2 separate regions of the Homo sapiens genome follow, and region 1 is linked to region 2. Evidence: fine-mapped expression QTL. A gene starts in region 2. The other region holds a variant in brackets. All regions are shown on one strand. Distances are from middle to middle. Region 1 holds the start of CERS3 (ceramide synthase 3). Region 2 holds the start of SPATA41 (spermatogenesis associated 41).

The links.
Region 1: its variant is fine-mapped to the expression of SPATA41 in skeletal muscle (GTEx, PIP 0.98).

The regions. Positions count from the first base shown.
Region 1 is chr15:100,521,038-100,533,765 of GRCh38, forward strand. CERS3 (ceramide synthase 3) reads right to left here and starts at 7,913. Exons shown (of 12, transcript NM_001378789.1): 1 at 7,776-7,913; 2 at 630-719. The variant C/T (reference allele first, on the strand shown) is at 5,319.
Region 2 is chr15:100,346,023-100,358,750 of GRCh38, forward strand. SPATA41 (spermatogenesis associated 41) reads right to left here and starts at 4,696. Exons shown (of 2, transcript NR_028139.1): 1 at 2,712-4,696. It overlaps LOC105371021 (a long non-coding RNA gene), which reads left to right and starts at 3,584. Exons shown (of 3, transcript XR_007064777.1): 1 at 3,584-3,660; 2 at 4,353-4,923; 3 at 5,657-6,122. RefSeq lists an enhancer at 3,864-4,123.

The DNA of each region.
Region 1 (12,728 bases), 180 kb after region 2:
TTCCAATTTGCAGGTGAACAATGAAGTTTAGAGAGATAAAGTGACTGCTCAAGGTGATACAGAGCCAGACTCAAATTTAGGCATTAACGGTAAAAGTGCAACTCCTCCCCTCTACGTTACCTGACTTTGCCTTTCATCAAGTCAATATTTGCGAACATGCTTCATGAATGACTCTTCCTCGTACAAATGATGATTTTTTATCATTTGGGGTCATATTTTATGATTTTGAAGGAATGTGGTTTTGAAAGTTTCTCCTTACAGGTAAGACGCTGGAAGCTAGAGACCTGCCCAGCACAGCCAGCTCTTCCTTCCTTCCCATCAGAACAGCAGGTGTTATGGGGGTGGAAGACCAGAGCACAGACAGCAAATGCCACCCCCTGATGGCTCTTTGCTACCTGCTGCTGTCACATGAAGCTTTCTCCTGCATCTCCGCTTTCAAAAGGAAAGAATACAAATCTATAGTATTTCATAAAGAATAGCATGGTACTGGCTTTGCCCAAACTCCACTTGTCCCCAGAATATGCAAAACAATGCCAGATATCAACTTCTGAGTCACAGATGTTAATTTCCCAAGATTATAGTTAAGAAAACACAGTAGAGGTAAAATAAAATAAAATAAAGATAATTACCTGAGTATATATGATAGCTTTCTACTGAGGAACTCAAATACTGTATATATGTATATATATATAAATGTCAGCTTTTGTTTCACAACATCCCTAAAGAAGCAGAAAAAGAGAAACATAATTAATATATTACACAACTGTGCCCATAAGCGTCCTTCTATAATAGGTCTAAAACTTAAGTCAGAGTTTCAAACCAACGGGAGAGCTTGGTGCTGGCAAATTTGGGTCTACCAATCAGTTTGGACTGGTGCATGGGGCTTTAAAACAATTTGAGCCAACACTGAAAATTCAAGAATTTGCACATAGAAATCCAGATTTGCAGCTTCACTCAGAAACTCAGAAGACTGGCAAGAATCACTGGAGCCCTTAAATGGAACACACGCTTACCAACCTGGCCAACTGTTTTCAGGCACCTGACCGGCTTTCTAGGTCAGTTAACTTTGTGACTCCTTATGTTGCTAACATTTCTCAATATGAATTATGTCGTCAAGTCAGTGTAACTTGAACAGAGATAATAAGGGCCTAGCACAGCCTGGTGTAACAATTACAGTTTGTCATAGCACATGGGTTTTCAAAGGACCAGTTGTAAACCATTAGTGCACTGGTTCCCAACCCTGGTTCTACATGTGAATTCCTTGGGAGAGATTTTTTGACCATGCTTTCTACCTAACCAGATCAACTAAACCAAGATCTCTGAAGGTGCAGTCCTGGTATCAGTATTGTCACTGCTGTATTGTTACTGTAATATAATTATTGAAGTATAACATACAGATGGTAAAGAAACAAAGCACAAAAGAATATGACCAGCACCCCAGACTCTTCCTCATGCCTCTCCCTGTCACCACCATGGATCCGTGTTGCCTGTTCTTGAACTTTATGTAAATACGATTGTTTTGAGCACATTCCTGGCATCTGGATTCTTTCACTCAACTTTTAGAACTGAGATGCATCTATGTTGTTGCATGTAACAGTAGCAAACTCATTTTCGTTGACTTTTAATATTCCATCCCATGACTATATCACTATATCACGATCTGTGTTCCCATTCTGTTGTCGATGGAAATATGGGTTGTTTTGAGTTTGGGATTACAACACTTCAAGGTGCCATTTATGAACATTCTTGAACATTCTTGAACATGCTTTAGGTAAATACGTGAATGCATTTCTGTAGAACATATACCTGGGAGTGGAAACGCCAGGTCATAAGGCATATGTATATTCAGTTTAACAGATATTGCTGAACAGTTTTTCAAAGCTGTTGTGACTATTTACACTCCTCCCAGTGACGTATGAGAGTTCCAGTGGTTTAATATCCTTGCCAAAATTTCTATTGTCTGTCTTTTAAATTTTCACCTTTCTGGTGGGTGTGTAGTGGTACTTCATTGCAGTTTTAATCTGCATTCCCCAGAAAGCTAACAAGGTTGAGTATGTTTCAAGTCTCTTGGCTGTCTGAATATGTTTTTCTGTGAAGTACCTGTTCAAACCTCTTGCCCATTTTTCTGTTGTGGCGGTCTATCTTTCAAAATTGCCTTGTTTCTGTTTTGGATAGGACTCCTTGTTTGTTACATGCATAACAAGTCATGTTATATGCATGACTCCTTACATGTTATTTGCATGGCAAATGTCTCCTCTCCTGCAGTTTGTCTTTTACTCTTTTAGTGGTATGCTTTGAGAAACAGAAGTCCTTATTTTTAACATAACCAATTTACAGATCTTTTTCATCATGTTAGTACTTATTGTATCTTGTTTAAGAAATCGCCAAGTGTAGTGGCTCACACCTGTAATCCCAGCACTTTGGGAGGCTGAGGCAAGCAGATCACAAGGTCAGGAGATTGCGACCATCCTGGCTAACACGGTGAAACCCTGTCTCTACTAAAAATACAAAAAATTAGCCAGGCATGGTGGTGGGCGCCTGTAGTCCCAGCTCCTTGGGAGGCTGAGGCAGGAGAATGGCAGGAACCTAGGAGGCGGAGCTTGCAGTGAGCGGAGATTGCACCACTGCACTCCAGCATGGGCAACAGAGCAAGACTCCATCTCAAAAAAAAAAAAAAAAAAAAGAAATCACTGTCTACCCAAGGTCATACATATATTCTGTTTTGTCATCTAGAACAATGCTGTTCAGTAGGAAGAAAACTGGGAGTAACATATGTAATTTTAAATTTTCTAGTATTTCAGGTACTCAATAGCCACATGTGGCTAGCAGCTGCCATATTGGACAGTGAAGATCTAGAAGTTATATTGTTTTACCTGTCACATCTAGATTAATACTTAGAGCTGTATGAATTTTAAGATGAGAATCAAGACTCATTTATTTGTACATGGACATTCAAATGTCTGTCCTTTCCTGTAGTACCAATGTTGTCATAAATCAAAGGTCCAAATTTGTGGAGGTTTTTTTTCTAGCATCTTAGTCCATTCCATTGGTCTATTGTTCCCTAGTTGATTTTAATTTTCAGACAGTATTGAGAACCACTACCAGTAGGTCACAAAATTAATTAGTCGGTTATGACCAGAAATGTTGTAGAGTGTAATGAAATGAAATAGAAAACAATACCTATAAGTATTGTTTTATGAAACTATTATTTCAGAATTGTGTGTGTATATATGTCCTAAGTTGAGATCTGAAAAGTATTTCTTACTAACAGTAATGGTTAAAAACGTTTGAAAATCACTGCAATAGTGTAATCTACACAACAACCACTTAGGAAAATTCAAGTTGCATACGATTTTATAGTCATCATCTAGAAAAGCTCTGAAGTTTTACTCTTACACAATTAGTTATAGTCCAGAATTCCACATAAGGCGGATCTCTGTTGGAATCAAGCCAGGTAAAGCAAGTTACAGCTAATGGGATAGGAATAGCTCATTATGAAACCCTGTAACTTTGACCCAAAGTGGAATATAGTAATGATCCTCTGATGTGAACATTACAAATGAAAATTGCTAATCTGCAGAATTTGACATTTGTTCAGCATCAGCATGTTGTATGTTTTTAAAGTTTTTAATCATATGTCAAACAAGAAAACAAACTTTGAGGGGAAGAAATTGAAGCCAAGTTAGTTATTAAATGATGTCAAGTAATCTTCATTATTGAAGAAAATGTTTTCAGAATTTTTTGCTTAAATTTTGAAATGATTAGTTTATTGTTCAGCCTGTGTCAGGGTCAATCTAATCAACAAGTATTTATTGACTATCCAGTAAAATATGTCTGGCAAAGAAATCAAAATAAAACAAATAGACCTTATCCCAGCAGAGAATTAAATGGATTATCACATATGATTTTTCTTCACTAAGTACTTCATCTTAGAACCTGAATATAGTAAGTAAAAGTGGTTTCAAGCTCCTTAATGTAATATTTTACCTCTCCAAATAACCTAAATATATGCCTTACCTGTGAATTTTACACTTTTTCCATTAATGAGAAATGTATGCATCTTTTGGTTGTGTTTTCATATTATGCACATACACACATGTGTATGAATGTGAGTGTGTGTTTACCAATCCTGAGCAGACAGATTTGGGAATTTTGGTTAAATATCTTAGTTTCCTGGTATTTCCTAAATATTTAACTCAGAAAACAATAAAGAGGAAACTTTCCATTAGATTGAAACATATAATCCACCACCAGCACAAATCATCTCCACAGATTTTCCAGTGGGCAGGTAGGCCAAAAAAATAAATAACCAGAACCCTTTAATTTTATATTTAAGTAGCAGGAAGATACTCACAGATGAAGAAATTTTAAATTCTCATATTTGGGAAAGGTAAAATTTGTTTCATGGACATCCAAGCCAAATCTCCTTCTTATCAGAGCTATTTTCTATTTATTAATGGAAATTCTCAGCCTTGAAATTATGATAATAACAACCTTTGGAAGTGATCTAACTGAAGCCCATTTACAATTGAACATCTGTCCACCATCAACAGAAAGCCCTGTGGAGAATTGTGGCTGTTACAGTTTTGTTACAAGGTCAAAGATTCTTAATCTCTCCGTTCACTTGCCAATTGGGGTTTTTATACATAAGCCCTAATTTATTTATTTTAATTAGACTTTTAGCTTCATTTATGTTTTCATCATTGTAAATTCCAGCTACAAGGACAAATCTTAAGGCAGCACATACAGCATGGCTGTAAAATGATGGGCTTGATTGTTGCACAGGACTTAGGAAAGTAAGTCCCACTACTTTAGAATGCCTTCTTTCATACTGCCAACTGTCTGGTCTGTCTAGTGTTGGCACAAGGATTTTTTCAATCATCCTGGGTCCATCCAGTAAATAAAACCATAAACTCGGGCTGTATAAGATCAATTAGATCGTTGTATTGTGTGTTGAGGTGTTTCCAGGAGAAAGAAGAATCTACCTGCATCTGATTCCAGAGAGAGCTTCTCTGTGTTCCCCTCTGCTATCTCTCTGCTATGATCTGCAGTTTCTCTGGATTCAAACATAGAGATAGATTGCCAAAACACCATTCTTGATGCCAGCTGGCCTACTTGATGAACTTGACTGCAGGCTTTTTGCCAAAACATAAGTCAATCGTTTTTGTCCCAAATCCATCCTTATAAAGGTGTACACCTGCAGGTCAATCTTTGCATCGCATCCCATAAATTCGTGTTGGGGAGGGCTTGGAAAGTCCAAGCTTCTTGTGTGGATGGCTTGGGGCCCAAGATAAATGAACAGTTGCCACGATACACTC[C/T]GTGCTCTGTGAGCGGAGGGAGCTCCCTTGGAGCCAGCCCAGCACCCTCCTCCCATGAGCACTCTGCCAGCTCCTGGCAGTGCTTCTGCTGTGGTGTGGAGGCCAGGGAAAACCTACATAAACTGTGTGTGTGTGTGTGTGTGTGTGTGTGTGTGTGTAAAAACAACTTTCCTGGCCTACCACAACAAACTGACTTTTGAAAAAGAAGTATCTGATGTTCTTGCTTTTTGCTTGATTTTACTATGCTTTGGGGGACTTTTGGCATAGGACATTCATTACTTTAAGAGGCTGTTTGAAAGCTGGATCAGCTCCACAAAGAAAGATAATCACAAAGTGATTTCCCAAGAAAGTACACTAGGATATAAGGAACAAGTACCAGTGGAAAGGCAACTCCCTGAGGGCAGGGACTTGTCTGCTTTGTTCACTGGTGATACCCCCAATCCTAGAACAGGATCCAACATGTCAAGAGCATGAAGAAATCACTGCAAAATGGGGAAATGAATACTGTTTACCAAGGGCCTACCCTCTGTCAGGTCCTATGGAAGGCATTTGACATACCCTGCCTTTTTATGTCTTATAATAAACAACCTCGTTTGATGGATGTTATAATAATTATTTTATAAATAAGGAAACTGAGATTTGAAGAATTGCACTGAGGCCAGGTGTGGTGGGTTATGCCTGGAATCCTAGTACATTGGGAGGCTGAGGTGGGCAGATCACTTGAGGCCAGGAGATCGAGACTAGACTGACCAACATGGCGAAACCCCCATCTCTACTAAAACTACAAAAAAATTAGCTAGGTGTGGTGTCACATGCCTATACTCCCAGCTACTTGGGAGGCTGAGGCACGAGAATCGCTTGAACCCAGGAGGCAGAGGTTTCAGAGAGCCAAGATCATGCCACTGCACTGCAGCCTCAGTGACAGAGCAAGACTCCATCTCAAAAAAATAAAAAAGGAATTTCAGTGACTTGCCAGGGTCATAGTTAGTAAGCAGGATGCAGGAATTTGAATTTTGATCTGTCTTTCTAGTCAATGTTCTGTCCACCACACCAAGCCTTCCTCCAACAGCAGAAGCAGGTGATAGATTGATTGATTGATTTTGGCCTTTTGTTATAAGACACCAAATTCGAGTATTTGAATATTATCATAGCTTCAGGAATCCCTCCACACAAGGACCCTGTAGGGGGTTAATGGAATAGAATGGGAATATAGAATGAGCTGAAATCATATATCTTAGTGTGCAGAAATGCAATAAAGCTGTGGCTTTCTCACATCCCTACTGTACCACTGTAAATCTCACTAAGCCTCAATTCCTCGTCTGAAAGTGGCGTATCATGAGCCCTAAAGGGGAAAATGCACGTACACACAGCAAGGACTTAGTAAATGTAGATTATTATTAGCCCAGAATGATCTTCAAACTTATGTAAATCAATTTGATTGATATTTTAGAAAAAGGCAGAAATATTGTGAATGAGAGGGCCACATAATTATTACCTTTTTGAACATATACATATTTTCTCTTTAAAGAACTTTTTATCCAGAAATTCTACTGAAGAAATTATAAATGGAAACCCCTTTTAAGAAAAACAAAAGGCTTGTAGGGGGGAAGGCAATGAAAATGTGAAGTTTAAAGTCAAACACTCACTTAAGGTAGAGAAGGCACTTGAACATTGTGGGTTAATGAATAAATTAAAATTCATTATCTGGTCAGCCCTAAAGCTTTATTTCCCTTGTTTTGTGTAAAGGTTTCAAAAAAATAAAAATGCTTAACAGAACATTCTTGCTAAACATTTGCTTGGATCAGAAAAAGTAGTTTGATTTTGTTTCACTTTTCTGCATGAGACTGGCAGCCTTAGAACCGAACAGCTAATTTCTCCTGGCATGACATTGAGCACTACATCTCTCAAGACAGAAGCAGCTTAGGAAGGCCTGCCACTGTGGGGTGAGCAAGTCCCACCTTGTTCTCAGCTTAAGGCACTCTGGGATGGTCTGAAATGGCCTTTGCCACCTGGCAAAGATCTGTGCTGACCCCTTTCATTCCACCTGGATTCAGGGCTTTCCTGATAAACCAAGCTATGCTGAGCATTCAGCCGTGTGTGATTTCACTGCCCAGACCTTTCTTCCTAACCCTCAATGAATCAGTTTAAACTCGCCCGAGAGCAATGCAGGTCAGGAGTGGAAGTTTGGACTCGAAATTTACCCTCTACTACTAAACACTTCCAAGCAAAACTCTACAAAGCAAAGGGCCCCAAGTCTGTCTTTTCTGTATTTCTCCCAAACATCAGACCAAAAATGAACATTTCTTCATTTGTCCGCCTCTCCCCCAATCTCCATCTCCTCTCCCTCTCTGTTACGCACCCAGGCACACATACACACACAAGCTCACACGCGGAATCACGGCCACCTTGGTTTTGAAAGTCCTCAAATACTAACCACATCCATGGGATGGCGCCTACCTTTCTGAAATGTCAGTCCACAAAAGGTGCCCCTTGCTTGTGAAGTGTAGTCAGAGAGCAGCTTCCAACGTTCCAACCAGCTTCGTTCTCCTCAGAGAGCAGCACAACTCATCTCTGTGTAAGACCTGAAATTCCTTCAGAGACCCACCCTCCAAAGTTGCGAGTCAAGATTTCTGACTGAGGGCAGTCAGTGACGTGAGGCGAAGCTACTGGATGGCACCCTCAGGTTCTTCCTGATGGGATGTTGCTTCCTGTTTCACCACCTTGAGAAAAGAAAGCTGGAATTCAGTGAGACATTGAGTTACAAATGCATCAGTTGCCTCATCGTTGTTGCCTTTTGGTGCACACAGTCATCTGTCAACTGCTGAACAGGATGATCTTGCTGTTTGTATTAAAAGGAAAGGGCTTATGCGCAGAGAGAACCCCAAAACACCAGTCACAACCCTGTACTGTCCTAGGAGCTGGTTCGACAAGTATAGTACTCTCCAGAAAACAGGCAGGGCTTCTTACTAACTAAATCACCACCATGCCACAAAACTCATCCACTAAGGAGCATTGGTCCACAGGAATGTGATTTCTCTGCCCGCTTCCTAGGAATTGAGAAAACGATCAGTTTTTTGAAGCATATAACTGCCAAAAAATACAATAGTCTGGCAATCTTTTCTTCTTAGAACAGTCAGATATAATTCGCATTTTTATTTGTTTGTCTCTAAGAACAATCATCATAGACAAAGACAGACAAGCTCATTAGTATCAGGAAATAAACATTGTTGCTTGTCTCTGTGTGCTTGAACCACTACAATTTCAAAGGCAAGTGTGGATGCATTTTATAGTGTTTATTTGAGATATTGTACCTTTGAAGCCATTTTCACTTTCTCTTGCCTGAAGATGAAACAACTCTGGGCTTGGATTATTTAAAGGTGCTCTGACAAGTAGAGAGCTTCAACAAGTTGATTCCTGTATCTCTCACAAACCAAACATCAGCAGTACCGCCCACACTGAGAGCCTGATTCTCATTAGCTGTCTTCAACTGCTGAAAGACATTTTTCTTTTTTCATCAGCTAATAGATGACCGCAAATTAAAAATGGACTAGATGCAGATAAAGGGAAACACCAGTTTCAAATTCATTAAAGCTCCAAAGTTTCTCAGATTTCACTAATGAATTTAGTTCAAAGAGAGAGGATTGATAAACGCCCTTCCTTTCACTGGGTACTTCTCACTCAGGGCTTCCCGGTCTGCCTTTCTCTTCGAAGACGTTCTGTTTTTCAGTAATGGGCTCATGCATTTTTAAAACCATCTGGCAGAAGGGATGAATTTAAAGCAGACTTGGCCACTAACCGAGGTAGGCTCAGTTCAGGTCTGCCTCACCTTCTGCCAGGAGACCACTGCAGAATTGGTTTCCTGACATGAGGCTTCCATCTTCATCCAATTGTCACCTAACTCACATTCCCATTCTCATTTCTTTTTCTTCTGCTGATTAAACTCTACCAGCCACCTTCTACCTATAGGATCAAGACCAGACTCCTTGGCACAATGGCCTGCTCGCAACCTGCTGCTCCAGGACTTCCTTTTGCCCTTTCCCACTAGATTCCAGACACAACAGTGGGCAGCTTCTGGGCCCTTGCCATGAGCTGCTCTCTCGCCTCTGTGCCTAATGAAAGTCTGAATCCTGCTCAAGCTTCCCTAGCCTCGGCCCTCTCTGTTCTGTGGGTATACCTTTATTGCAACACCTACTACTCTATCACAACTTAACTGATTTTTGTATCTGCTTCCCCACTACTTTGGGAATCCTCACTGGACAAGCCTTAGATCTCTTTCTACCCCTGGAGCTCAGCTGTTCAATACTGGTCAAACAATTAGTACCCAAAATAGTGATCATCCAACACTCATTTTCACTCCGGGGATATCTCGGGAAAAGAATGTCCTGAACCCTATTTTGGACTCTCTTACTCAGAATTAAACAAGCCAAAAGAATATTGGGGAACCAGGCTGGGAACAGTGGCTCACACCTGTAATCCCAGCACTTTGGGAGGCCGAGGTGGGAGGATCCCTTGAGGTCAGGAGTTTGAGACCAGCCTGGCCAACATGGTGAAACCCTATCTCTATTAAAAATACAAAAAATGAGCTGGGCATGGTGGTGGGCGCCTGTAATCCCAGCTACTCGGGAGGCTGCGGCAGGAGAATTCCTTGAACCCAGGAGACAGAGGTTACAATGAGCCAAGATCACTCCACTGCACTCCAGCCTGGGTGACAGAGTGAGACTCCTGTCTCAAAAAAACAAAAAACAAAAAACAAAAAAACCAATATTGTAGAACCACATGTTTTCATGCTTTGTTTTAGTTACTTCTACAATGAAACACATGTTATTTGCTGATAAAATATAATGTTCAAATCAAATCGGAACTATTTAGACATAGTTCTATAACTCCTGTTAATCAAAAGAACCCCGTCAGCATCTGCTGTCTTTTTTGAGTCACTGTCAAGGTGTAATTCTTCCCCCTTCTTCAGGGGCAAGATGTAAAAATGAGGCTATTGCACAACTTGTGCTAGAGGAATGAGAGTGAGGAACTCGGAGGGTTTGCTGGTGAAGACTTTGTGGGAGCTGTGGGAGTGAGGAACTCGGAGGGTTTGCTGGTGAAGACTTTGTGGGAGCTGTGGACCTATGTGTAAGTCTAGTCATCTCCACAGCTCCTCTGAGGAAAATAACCCAGGGCAGGAAATAGGCTGTGTGTGGAGTTGAAAACAAAGCAAATATGGTTATCTCAAGGATTCCTAAGGTGATTCCTTTTTTCTTCTCTTTCTTACTTGTGCCTCACCATAAATGTATCAGTGCATTGCTAAGAGAAAAGATAGAACCCCAGGAAGCATTAAAGGAAAGAGCAAGATGCATGCACGTGGGTATCATTTCTCCTAGGTAGTACTTAGCTGTTTCCTTTTATGAGAAAACGGAAGCAGTGAGTTGAGACATTAAATCAGTTTTATATTGCGAATCCTCATTAATAGATATTAAATCACTTATTAGCATGTTAATGATTCATTGCATTTTAAAAAGTGAACGTCGGACCTCTGACAAATGAAATGTAGACAATTAAGCATGACAGTGGAGAGGTGTTGTCGGGAGCAGTAGGGGTGCATTACAAAGCGGGTACCGGGTGCCTTTCACCTAGTAAATTGGGAAGGAGAGGGATAGGAGAAGTGTAGACCAGAGACAAACCCAGTCAAGGTTCTGGAGAGCCACTTAGGAACTAGAAGAGGAAAACACAGTAAGCCGGATGCAGGAAAATTGAGTCTGGGCGCCAGCAGCAAGACACAGTGCCAAAAGCTCTCCTAGCCAAGGGCAGAGGTCCCACAGTTGCATGGGTGTAGATGGGGAAGAAGGGGAAGCGGGCAACTTCTAAGCTGCATTTTATGCTTTCAGCCGATCCTTAACCTAATTTCGTAGAGAAGAAAACGTAAGAATCAACAGGCTTTTCCCTCAAAGGAAGGAATCCCTTCCAAGAAACTTAACATATACAGTTTTTGCCCTATTGTTCTTAACCTAACCGGCAAAATTTTTGAGATTTTACTATCAACAAACTGTTTTCTTCTCATGTTTTATCTTATCATTTTCATAGACGTTTCAAATGCTATTTGTCCACAGACAGAAATTTAAGTCAAAATGCTACCAAACTGCCAGGTGCGATGGCTCATGCCTGTAATCCCAGCACTTTGGGAGGCCAACACAGGAGGATTGCTTGCGTCCAAGAGTTCAAGACCAGACTGGGCAAGATGGCAAAATCCTGTCTCTACAAGAAAAAAAAAAAATAGCTGGGTATGGTAGCTGTGATCCCAGCTACTTGGAAGGCTGAGGTGGGAGGATCACCTGAGCCTGGGAAGTCAAGGTTGCAGTGAGCTGTAATCGGCCCAATACACTCCAGACTGGGCGACAGAGTAAGACCAAACTGCATTCTTTAAAGAAGTGTGTGGAAAAGCTCCTGTTGGATAAAATGAAACAAGCAAATGTCTTCACAAGTGGTTCCCCACTACACTGGGAATTCTCAAGGGACATGACTTAGCCATCTTCATATCCCTGGATCAATACCTACCCCGCTCAAATGTGAAGCCTATGTCTTATTGTCATAAAGTCATCTCTCCTCCCTGCCACAATGATGCCTCTAGATCCCCACATGGATTATAGGATGAGAGGACCTGAACTTCATCTTCCCTTCCCCGCTCCACTCCGCTTCCACACTCATCCTGGCCCAGGGTTGAAAGTCTCTTTGCCGGATAACCTGAGAGGCCACTTGGTGAGAAAGTGAGAAAACTGAGGAGAAGACCCTCTGCTGTCAAATTAGTCGGGAGGACAACTGCTTTCCTGCATCCAGACTCACCTGGGGGCCTCCCTCCCTACAAACTCCAGCCCCTCTCCTGCTTCATTTTCCTCCACGTCACCTGTCACCTTCTAACTTACTGTATCTCTTATCTGCCTCTCCCCCACGTAAGCTTCAGGAGGACGGAATTTTCGTCTGCCGTGTTCAGTGCTAAATCCCCAGGGGTTAGAACAGTTCCTGGCACAGAGTTGACACTTGATGCTGACAGAGTACATTTATGTATCTATATATTTGCCATTGTGTCTCTTCCTCTCTACCACAGTAGGTAGTTACTTTTTGAGGACCAATTCATTGGGTTCTTTTCTTTTCTTTTCTCCTTTCTTTTCTTTTCTTTCTTTCTCTTTCGTTCCTTCTTTCCTTCCTTCCTTCCCTCTCTCTCTTTTTTTTTTTTTTTTTTTGAGTCTCGCTCTGTCACCCAGGCTGCAGTGCAGTGGCGCAATCTCAGCTCACTGCAACCTCCACCTCCCGGGTTGAAGCGATTCTCCTGCCTCAGCCCCCCAAGTAGCTGGGATTACAGGCACGTGTTACCACCCCCAGCTAATTTTTTTGTGTTTTTAGTAGAGACAGGGTTTCACCCTGTTA
Region 2 (12,728 bases):
CCTACCTCAGAAGGTCTCTCAGTCTGCATCTCCCAACCCACCAGCCTCTCTTCACTTGCCTCCATATCCAGCTTGCATTCCAGGCCCCATGACTCTGAAAACACTCTTGCCAATATGCTCAGCACCCTCCCCTATCCCTTTTCACTGCAGTTGTCATGCAGAACTACAGGCCTGGGTAAACTCAACTCTCTACTCTCACTGAGCATGTGGTTGAGCTCTGAACACCACTGGAGCCAAGCATGCAACAGGGAAATCTGCAATCACCTTCTTCATTTGAGCCATCGCCATGCCCACCATTGCTACTACACTCCTCTGCCCAACTCCCCTTTCTCTCAATGCAGTGCTGATCTCGAACCCTCCCCTTCTCAGCTTCGCATTCCTCATCTTATCCCTTTCTTTTGGCAGTGGACAAGCACGCACTTCACAGAGTCATCCCCTGGTCCAGACTCTTTGCCGCGGTTTGAATGTTTATGTCCCTCCAAAATTCATGGTGAAACTTACCTCATTGTGCTGGTATTAAGAGGTGGAGCCTTTTGGGTTAAGGCCCAAAGTCATGAGGGCTCTGCCCTCATGAATGGAATTAATGCCCTCATTAAAGAGGCTCAAGAGGGCTTCTTGGCCCTTTTGCCCTGCATCTCTTCTGCCATATGAGGACACAGCATTTGTCCTCTTCAGAAGATGCAGCAACAAGGTGTCATCCTGGACACAGAGAGCTTACCAGACACTGAATCTGCCGGCACCTTGACCTTGGACTTCCCAGCCACCAGAACAATGAGAAATAAATGTCTATTATTTATAAATTACCAAGTCTAAGCTATTTTGTCATAGCAGCAGGAATGGACTAAGGCACTCCTCCTCCCAGCTCCAGACCATGTATCCAGCTGTTCAGTTGACCACTTCAAAGAGCGAGACCATGGCATGTGATCCAGTTTCAAGGATGGATGAGAATGTTTCAAATCTGCTTTTGTTTTTGTTTGACTTTGAATTAAGAAATCATCCAGTGGATGATGGAAGGATCATGGGACACTGATATCATTTGGGTACACATTGTACTTGTTTGGTTAACCCTATTTGGATAAACTGTTGTGGTCTGGATTTAGTTGCTTGCAGCCAAGGTCATCTATGATCTAATGTCTTCAGACCATTCACCAGAGTACTATTTCTCCTGCCCAAGCTCCTGATGAGGACTGGCCAGCTGAAAGCCAGGGTTAAATCCAACTCCATGCATGACCCAAGGAACAGCTACTCCCTGATGCTGAACAAGGCCAAAGCCATATACTGTGAACAAGCACAAAACAGAGCCAGGCTGGCATGTGCTTCCGCAAATTGTGAAGCCCAAACAGCTGCCTCTGCTGCAGTTGATGGTGACTTATTAGCAAAGAAAACATTTTCTTTTTGGAAAAGAGTTTTAGATTGGCTTCAATGCTTGGACAAAAAGAGGTCAGCCCTACAAGGCCCATGACACTGAGCATAGCTACAATGTATTGAAAACAGGCATCGCTGATGCCCACACAGCCCTAAAAATTGCATCTCAGTGCCCATACAATGTATAAGTTTAGGCAATTCAACTTCATGGTGAACTTTTCAAGGTTAATTGGTTGAGAAATATCAAAAAAGCATTTGTAAAAGTAATACTTTGATTTTTCAAAGAGTTGATCTTGAACCAATCTTTCAACCAGTGGTTGAATAGTGAGACCAGTACCTGCAGATGACACACCTGCTATCTAATGATGGAACCACACCATCCCCAGAAAAGAGGCCCATTATCCTGTGTTCTGGAGCAGATCCTACACATCCAAAATGGTCCTGAATAAAATGTGCGTTATACATTAGGCTGTGAGGTGGGGGATGGGGAGAGTCCAGGACACATCCCCACATCATTCTCATCACAATTATGATCTGATTTACAGAAAACAGTATCTTTGAAGTGGCATTAAAGTGAAACTTCTGGATGAGCAAAACTGGCCAGAGGTCTACATTTAACTAAGTAGCTTAATTTACAAAAATGTCTGTCCTCAGTCTAGACCAAGGAAAAAGCAATGGTAACTGCATTCATTTATGTACTCATTAGGTCCTTCAACCCTTCTTCAGTGCCTACTTTCTGTGTGCCACGTACTGAGATGCCAAATGAAGAGGCAGCAGCATATAAATTGCACTTCTTTCCCCACAGTTCTCTATAGAGCTCTGTTATGAACTAGACACTGTTCCTGGTGCTGGGGATTTAGAAACGAAAAAGTAACTTCCCTGTGTTCTATCTAGTGGGGGAAGGCAGATAGAAAGAAATAATTTTGTGGGAATGTAAAATGGTACAGTCACTGTGGAAAACAGTACGACTATTCCTCCAAAATAGATTTACCCTATGATCCAGCAATTCCGTTTCTGGATGTGTACCCCAAAGCTTTGAAAGCGGGGACTCCAACAGGTATTTGCATACTCATATTCATAGTATGCAAATTTAACTAAGTAGATGTTGTCATGGCATTTGTAAGCTGCCATGGCACTAGCGGGAGTGTCTTTTGCCATGCTAATACATTATAATTAGTGTATAATGAGCAGTGAGGACGAGCAGAGGTTGCTTTTGTCACCATCTGGTTTTGGTAGGTTTTGGCCAGCTTCTTTACCGCATCTTGTTTTATCAGCAGGGTCTTTGTGACCTGTATCTGGCAAAACCTCCCCTGAGATGCAATTCATTGGTTCCTGGGGTAACCAACCTGCCTCCCTGGCAGCCACTGACTCATCCTGTGACGAAGAATGCCTAACCTCCTGGGAATGCAGCCCAGCAGGTCTCAGCCTCATTTTGCGCAGCACCTGTTCAAGATGGAGTCGCTCTGGTTCGAACACCTCTGACAGCTGCCCGACAATGTGAATGTACTTAATGCCACTGAACTTACAAATGATTGAAATGGTAATTTTACGTTATAGTACATTTTACTACAGTAAAAAATGTTTTAAAAAAGAAATCATTACTCTCTTGCTAAGATCTTGTTTCATCTTAACACACACGAGATGCCTTGTCTTCATTTCGTGGACAGGCAAGGCCGAATTCCGTTTCACAGATAGAGGACTGAGATCTGGAGGCAGAGGGCAGGAATTAAAAACAAGACAAACAAGAGCCTTATACAGGCAGTGTCTTTCTGAGTCTGATCCCTGTTGTCTTGAGAGCTGCGGTGAGGGAAAGTCGTCTTCAGAGCCCTCAGGGTCAAAGCAGTTTGTTACCCTTGAGATAGACAAAGCTCCTAACCTCTCCAGCTTTTTGCCGACAGCTCGATTCTGATGGGCACTGACCTTTTCCGACCCTGTTTTCAGGAGCCGACTCCTGGCAGGTTGGTTGTAGGGGCCCTCTTGAGTGCTTCACACACAGCAGTCCTGTTGGGGTGAAGGTCACCGTCACTGTGATAATTGTTGTCGTCGTTGAAACCACCCAGCCCGAAAGCAGCATGGGCTGTGCCCAGAGCCGCCGTGCCAGAAGCCCACGCTTAGAAATAGAGGGCCGAAGACCAAAGAGGACTGCGGGTTCTTGGGCCAAACGTGACCCTCTCAAATCCCCCAACTCGGGGATTTCGTTAGCTGGGGACTGGTGTGCCCGGGTTCCAAGACCCCTGCGTAGACTCTGTCTATAGGTGGAAGAAGGCCTTTGCCCCGAGGCATCCAGAGGTAACGGTGAGAGGAACAAGGGCACGTGGGGGATCCCACCACAGCCTCCCCTGAGACCCTCTTCACGCTGGTTGCAGGAGTAGCCAACCCCGCTCCCTGGCAGCCCGTGAGATGCCACATCCCCTCCAGCAGGGGGCGGCCGGCATCGGTCCCGTCTTCCTAAACCGGCGTTGGTGGGAAATGCCGGCACCAGCTCCCTCCCCGCTCCAGAGCCCTGTTTTCCCCATTTGTATTTCACTACTTTCCTGTTGAGCTTGGATTCCAGCCTCAAATTCCGCGATTTGGCCGGCATCCTAATCCCCGAGTGACTCTTGCCAACCACTCTCTGTGGGGCCTGTGTGCTTCCTCCTGGGTTCTGGGGCGCTGGCGGCGTCCGCTTCACCGGGAACGGGAGCCCCAGCCTCCCGAGGCCTTCCTGCCTGGCTCTGGGAATGGCCACTGTCCAGAAAGCCCCGCGGCCGTCCATGCTCGCTCGCTCAGTCAGGCCCTTGTGGGGATATTGCAGAACGAGTCCGAGTTACTATCCCTTTAAATACAGGCGTTTCGGCCTAGCTGCCGCCGGTCCAATCCGCAGCGCTTCCGTGCCCCACTTTCCCGCGTCAGCCTGGCTCCGGCCTCCACCAGGGGGTGCTAGTGAGATCCCAGCCAGCCTCAGAGCTGAGCGTCCAGGGCCTTCAAATGTCCCCATCCTTGAAAAGGCAACTCCAGTGGCATCTTCTGCGGGGAGACCAGAAGCAGCATCTGACGAGGAGACAGCACTGGCGGTCCCGACACAACTGAATCGGCAGGATGAGGGCCCTTAGTGTTAGGCACCGGCGGAGCTGCATCCCACCCCGTCTCGTCCCCTGAGAACAGCTGTGAGAAGCCGCCTATTTTTCATCGTTCTGCAACACACCTTTCCCTTCCTTGGGATATTTCTCCTCTTTCAGCATTGCCGCATCAGGGTTCCAAAGCCCCGTTTCTCTCCTAGTTCTTTCTTTGCTCAAGAAAAGCAGCTTGTCTGATAAACTAAGCTATGTATGATTCGCTGCCAGTACAGACTGAAAAACAAAATAAACTCCCAATTCACAGTCCTCCGTTGCGTAACAGTGAGCAGACGTTCTGAGAAATGCATCGTCAGGCAATTGCATCATTGTGCAAACAATATAGAGTGTACTTACCCAAACCTAAACAGCACAGCCTACTACACACCCAGGCTGTAGGCTGTGCTTCTAGACTACAAACCTGTACAGTGTGGTACTGAACACTGTAGGCAACTGTAACACAATGGTAAGTATTTGTGTATCTAAACATAGAAAAGATACAGTAAAAATATGGTATGAAAGATTGAAACTGGTGCACCTGCCTAGGGCACCTACCGTAAGCTTGGAGCTTACGGGACTGAAAGTTGCTCTGGGTGAGTCAGTAAGTGAGTGGTGAGTAAATACGAAGGCCTAGGACATTACTGTACACTACTGTAGACTTTAAAACCCTGTACACTAGGCCCACACTCAATTTATTTTTAAAAATTTTCTTTCCTTCAATAATATATTCACTTTAGCTTACTGTAACTTTTCTACCTTAAGAATTTTTAAATTTTTTGACTCTTTTAATAACAGCTTGAATACACAAACACATTGTACAGCTATACAAAAATATTTTCATTCTTCATATCCTTATTCTATAAGCTTTTTTCCTACTTTTGAAGTTGTTTATTTTTTACATTTTAAACTTTTTGTCAAATATTAAGACACAAACACACATTAGCCTAGGCCTATACAGGGTCAGGATCATCAATACCACTGTCTTCTGCTTTCACATCTTGTCCCACTGGAAGGTCTTCAATGGTAATAACACACATTCTTAGTAAATGCAAATAGTCATGGCTCAGACTGATATAGTAATGATAGACTATTCAATATGTGGTATTGGACAGCTGTTTATATATTTGTACGAACCTAAGTTAGATTCTGTGGTGGTTCAAAAATATATCCTCTAATTATGACCTGCTTCCCTTCAACAGGTGTACCTAATTCCTCTGCCTAGAAAGTGTGCTGGAATTACTGCCTGGCTTCTGATGAATAGGGCGTATTGAGAGTGATGCTTTGTGAGTTCTGAGGCTAGGTCATAGAAAGGATTGAACTTATTCCTGAATGTTGCTCTTGGATCACTTGCTTTTTTGGGAACCACCAGCCATGTCATGAGGACACTCAAGCAACCCTGCAGAGAAGCACATGTGTGGAGAGGCACTTCTTGGAAAGGAGGCCAACTTGCCAGAACCAACTAATTTGTCATGTGAGTGAGTCATTTTGGAAGCAGATCCTCTACCCTCAGTCAGGCCTTCCGATGATTTCAGCCCCCAGCCTTTGAGTCTGCCCCAAACACCATGAGTAGAGACAAGCCCTTCCCACTGTGTCCACCCTGGCTGAATTCCAGACCGTTAAAAAAACAAGAGAAAATAAATTATTATTAGTGTTTTGAGTCACTAAGTTTTGGACTAATTTGTTATGCAGCAATAGCTAACAACTACAGAGTCATAACACAAACTAAAATTAATTCTAAGGCATGTTAAAGATTTATATGAAAGCATTCATCTAATGGAGGTGTGCAAGAAGTGGCTATAAAAAATTTAGGGCACCCAAAAGCAACCTGTAGGCTGAGCAGGGTAAGTACATCTGCAAGAGCAGCCAGATGGCTAGTTGGTCCCTGTGTGCAGCCTCTCTACCCACCCATGGTATAGGTCCAGGAATGGAACTGTTTAGCTTCCCTAGGAAACAATGAATGTGGTGCTTGCATTGTGTTGCTGACACCATCAGAGAGGAAATGGAAGTCCCAGTGTCCAGAAGCTAAACAGAAACACACACACACAAAAGACAGAAGGAAAGAAAAAAAGGGCCAAAATATCCCACAACAAAGGGAAATATAGTCATGATACATGCTTAACTTCAGAAAAGACTTATATAATAATTATATCAAAATCATAATGTAAACACTGTGCAATGATTTTCAACTTTTAGAATCAACCAAAAAGAAATAGCAGAATATATCATCCCGGCTGCAGAATCAATTGTAAAAGTTGTCATCCATAACAATGTCAAAGTAAAAGAGTAGATAACAAAGGAGAAGAGATGGAAGTTAAAAAGAAACAAAGAAACGTATAGGGGGCAAGTTCCCTCATCTTCCAAAGTGAAGAGAAAGATATTGCCTATAGTTGATAAAATAAGAAGTAAAGATATACATGTATACTTTGAATTCACAAAGGTAATTAATAAAAGAAATAAAAGTCTCATATTGGGATGGGAATGTGATAAAAAGTGAGGTAAATCCTTATCCATCATTGTAATACATCACTTGCCATATCTAGTCTTGACATATAAAAAAATTAAGAACAATTTTAATGGTATGAAGAAAATGATCAGAAAAATTAAAACCAGAAATAGTTAAAAGGATTGCTTTCAGCAGTGAGTCTAGGGTAGAAAGATTTGGGCAAGGTGTCATTATTTCACACTTTAGGAACTTCTATATCATTTTCTTTAACTATTGAATGTATTACTTTAAAAAATTAATAAATATTTTTTAAATTCCAGATTCCAGAATGGTTCTTCCTTTAATATACGTATTATCTTTGTTTTTACAACTAGGATGGCATTTGTATAACATAACATACACAAGTAAGTATTTAATTCTTAAAATAATTCTGCCAGGAAAAAATTATTATCCTTCACTAATAAGTGGGAAAAGTGAGCTGAGAAATGCTAATGACTTGCCCAAGATGACTCAATAAGTTATATCTTTGAGAGTTATAAAATCTTAAAATATTGACTATGTCTCACAGATGTCTCATGAAGAATCTCACTTTATAGATAAAAATGTAATGTCAACAAAGATACAAAATTTCCCACTGGGTCACAAGGATTTAATGCGTGAGCATGGTTCCTGTTTCTTTCTCTGTGGGACATGGTGACCACCTATGTATGCATCAGAAAGCTAGAAGCAGGAGGAAGTAGGCAAGAACCAGTGGCCTCACCACAACCCTTTGACATAGGCGTTATTATTAACCACATTCTATACTCAGGGCAATAGCGCCAGAAGTAAGCACTGTGTTCATCAAGGTTGCACAGATGGTCATTTGTGGAAGAGGAATTTGACTCAAACCCTGGGACACCAGAGCCATGCCCTCTATCATTAAGGGGGGACATGGGAAGAAAAAGGGAAATCCAACTCACCTGTGAATGGATCACGTGGTGGTTGTAGTGATTCTCTGACTGCAGAGTCTAGGGCAATGTTTTTCTCTTCTCAGATTCTCAGTTTTCTCATCTGTGAAATGAGGAGTTGTGCTAGATTACCTCCCAGTTATGCTTGAACTTGTAATGCAGCAATTCAAACAATTCTTGGAAACAGAGACAAGGGCCTAGGAGAGTGCTGGCACATTATACACACTTGGTTATGTTTACTGAATAAATGACTAAGTAAAGAAAACAATTTGATAAGATTAGAAATTTCTGAAGACTCCATGAACTGTCACGTGGCCAGAGAAAAGAAAGCATCAAACCCATCTCTCTCTGGATTCACTGACTGTCATTCTTCTCTGAAGTAACTTCGATTCACCAGGTTTATGCAGGTTTGATTAAAAACAATAATAACAGCAACAGAAGTCCAGATGTAAAGGTGTGCCCTGCTATCGAGAGAGGGAAGGGGTGTGGAAGGCTCTGTTCTTTAAATAACCCTGGGGTCCTGGGGTCTCTTTGCAACAGCCCCTGTCTGGGCACCACATCTCAGGAGTGTGTATTTTCGCACCCAACCCCTAAGCCACTTGACACATAGCAAGTACTTGGTAAGAAATACTTTCCACATCACCAGCAGTTTATGGGTTTCTCCCCTTTCTTACATATGTCGCCTAGAACTTTCTTCCAAAATCAATTAAGCTTTGAAATATAAAGCTGGGCAGAGAAACTATGATCAGATCTCAATAACTAGATTGTATTTGTCCAAAATCCTTGGTTGCTAGTATCGGAAATACACAGAGCTCGAGTGATCACAAAGAAAGTGTTTGTCTGATATTCTAAAATCAATCATTGGAATTCTCAATATTAACAGACTATAAAGGAAAAATCATATGGTCATGTCAGAAGACATGAAAAAGCCTTTGATAACATCCAACATCCGTTCCTGATTAAAAAAAAAAAAAGCTCTCAGCCAACTAACAGCAGAAGAGACCTTCCTCAACCTGATAAAGGACATCTATGAAAAAACCTACAGATAACATCATACTTAATGGTGAAAGACTGAAACGCTTTTCCCCTAAAGTCAGGAACAAGACAAGGGTGTTGGCTCTCACCATCTCTTTTCAACGCTGTACAGGAAATTCTAGCTGATGTAGTCAGGCAAGAAAAATAAGTGAAAGGAATCCAGATTGGAAAGGAAGAAGTAAAATTGCCTTTATTCACAGACATCGGGATCATCTTCACAGAAAATCCACACAAAAATTTACTAAGACTAATAGTAAGTTCAGCAAGACTGTAGGATATAAGATCAATATACAAATTTCAATTGTATTTCTATATACTAGCAATGAATAAACATTAGAATTTAAAAACAATATTATTAACAATGACATAAAATAGCATAAAAACAGTAGCATAAAATACTTAGGGATAAGTCTGACAAAGGATGTGAAAGACCTGTATATTGAAAACTATAAAATATTGCAGAGAAACATTAAAGAAAGAAAGAAAATTAGGAATACTTAACCATGTAACCCTGGGGCAAGTTTTCCTCCTCCCTATTCAACCTGTAGCTGATGCACTCCTGAAAACACCACCTCCTGGCTGGAGGCCAACCACACAAAACCAGCGCATTAAACAAAAACACAACCAAGGATCTTCAGAGTCCACTGCACTCCCCTGCTCCCTCCACCGGAGCAGGTGCTGGTATCCACAGCTGAAAGACCTGAAGACAGATCACATCATAGGACTCTTTGCAGACACTCCCTAGTACCAGCCCAGAGACTGGTAGCTCCACTGAGTGGCTAGACTCAGAAGGGCAAAAGCAATCACTGCAGTTCAGCTCTCAGGAAGCCCTATTCCTAGGGGAAGAGGGAGAAAACCACATAAAGGGAGCACCTAGTGGGACAAAAGAATCTGAACAGCAGCCCTGGAGTCCCAGATCTTCCCTCTGACATAGTCTACCCAAATGAGAAGAAACCAGAAAAACAATTCTGGTAATATGACAAAACAAGGTTCTTTCGCAGCCCCAAAGATCACACTAGCTCACCAGCAATGGATCCACACCAAGATGAAACTTCTAAATTCCCAGAAAAAGAATTCAGAAGAATTATTAAGCTAATCAAGGACGCACCAGAGAAAGGTAAAGTCCAATGTAAAGAAACCAAAACATGATACTGGATATGAAAGGAAAAATCTTCAGTGAAAGAAATAGCATAAACAAAAAACAATCACAACTTCTGGAAATCAAGGACACACTTAGAGAAATGCAAAATGCACTGGAAAGTCTCAGCAATAGAACCGAACAAGCAGAAGAAAGAACTTCAGAGCTTGAAGACAAGACTTTCTAATTAACCCAATCCATCAAAGACAAAGATAAAAGAATTTTAACAAATGAACAAAGCCAGCCGGGCATGGTGGCTCATGCCTGTAATCCTAACACTTTGGGAGGCGGAGGTGGGCAGATCACCTGAGGTCAGGAGTTCGAGACCAGCCTGGCCAACATGGTGAAACTCCATCTCTACTAAAAATACAAAAATTTGCTGGGCGAGGTGGCGCGTGCCTGTATCCCAGCTACTCGGGAGGCTGAGACAGAAGAACCACTTGAACCCAGGAGGCAGAGGCTGCAGTGAGCCGAGATCGTGCCATTGCACTCCAACCTGGACTAAAGATCAAGACTCCATCTCGAAAAAAAAAAAAAATGAACAAAGCCTCCACAAAGTTTAGGACTATGTTAAACATCCAAACCTGAGAATAATTGGTGTTCCCCAGGAAGAAGAGAAATCTAAAAGTTTGGAAAACATATTTGAGGGAATACTTGAGGAAAACTTCCCTGGCCTTGCTAAAGATCTAGACATTCAAAATCAAGAAGCTCAAAGAACATCTGGGAAATTCATCGCAAAAAGATCATCGCCTAGGCACATATGCATCCGGTTATCTAAAGTCAAGATGAAGGAACAAATCTTAAGAGCTGTGAGGCGAAAGTATCAGGTAACTATAAAGGAAAACAGAGTAACAGCAAACTTCTCAGCAGAAACCCTACAAGTGAGAAGGGATTGGTGTCCTATTTTTAGCCTCCTTAAACAAAACAATTATCAATCAAGAATTTTGTATCCAGTGAAACTAAGCTTCATAAATGAAAGAAAGATGCAGTATTTTCCAGACAAACAAATGCTGAGAGAACTCACCACTACCAAGCCAGCACTTCAAGAACTGCTAAAAGGAGCTCTAAATCTTGAAACAAATCCTCAAAATACACCAAAATAGACCCTCCTTAAAGCATATGTCTCACAAGACCTATCAAACAATAACACAATGAAAAAAAAAAAACAAGGTATTCAGGCAATAAGTAGCACAATGAATAGAATAGTGTGTCACATCTCAAAACTAATGTTGAATGTAAATGGCTTAAATGCTCCACTTAAAATATACAGAATGGCAGAATGGATAAGAATTCACCAACCAAGTTTCTGCTATCCTCAGGAGACTCACCTAACACATAAGGACTCACATAAACTTAAGGTAAAAGGGTGGAAAAAGATAGTCCATGCAAAGGACACCAAAAGTGAGCAGAAGTAGCTATTCTTATATCAGACAAAACAAACTTTAAAGCAAAAGCAGTTAAGTCTTGGAACCAACCCAAATGCCCATCAATGATAGACTGGATAAAGAAAATGTGGCACACATGCACCATGGGATACTATGCAGCCATTTTAAAAAAGGATGAGTTCATGTTGTTTGCAGGGACATGGATGAAACTGGAAACCGTCATTCTCAGCAAAGTAACACAAGAAGAGGAAACCAAACACCGCATGTTCTCACCCATAAGTGGGAGCTGAACAATGAGAACACATAGACACAGGGAGGGGAACATCACACACCAGGGCCTGTCAGTGGGTGGAGGGCTGGGGGAGGAATAGCATTAGGAGAAATACCTAATGTAAATGACGAGTTGATGGGTGCAACAAACCAACATGGCACATGTATACCTATGTAACAAACCTGCACGTTGTGCACATGTACCCCAGAACTTAAAGTATAACAATAAAAAAAGGAAAAACTTTAAAAAAAAAGACAAAGAGAGACATTATGTAATGATAACAGGACTAGTCCAACAGAAAAATATAACAATCCTAAATATATATGCACCTAATATTGGAGCTCCCAAATTTATAAAGCAATTACTACTAGACCTAAGAAATGAGATAGAGAGCAACACAATAATAGTGGGAGATTTCAGTACTCCACTGACAGCACTAGACAGGTCATCAAGACAGAAAGTCAACAAAGAACAATGGACTTAAACTATACCCTACAACAAATGGACTTAACAGATATTTACAGAACATTCTACCCAACAACTGCAGAATATACATTCTATTATCAGCACATGGAACATTCTCCAAGATAGACCATATGATAGGCCACAAAATAAGTCTCAGTAAATTTAAGAAAATTGAAATTATAACAAGTACTCTCTCACACCACAGTGGAATAAAATTAGAAATCAGCTCCAAAAGGAACCATCAAAACCAGGCAAATACATGGAAATTAAATAACCTGCTCCTGAATGATTGTTGGGTCAACAATGAAATCAAGATGGAAATTTAAAAATTTTTTGAACTGAATGATAATAGTTGCACAACCTATCAAAATTTCTGGGATACAGCAAAAGCAGTGCTAAGAAGAAAGTTCACAACATTAAATGCTTATATAAAAAAGTCTGAAAGAGCACAAATAGACAATCTATGGTCACACCTCATGGAACTGGAGAAACAAGAACGATCCAAAACCAAACCCAGCAGAAGAAAAGAAATAATGACAATCAGAGCAGAACTAAATGAAATTAAAACCAAAAAAATACAAAAGATA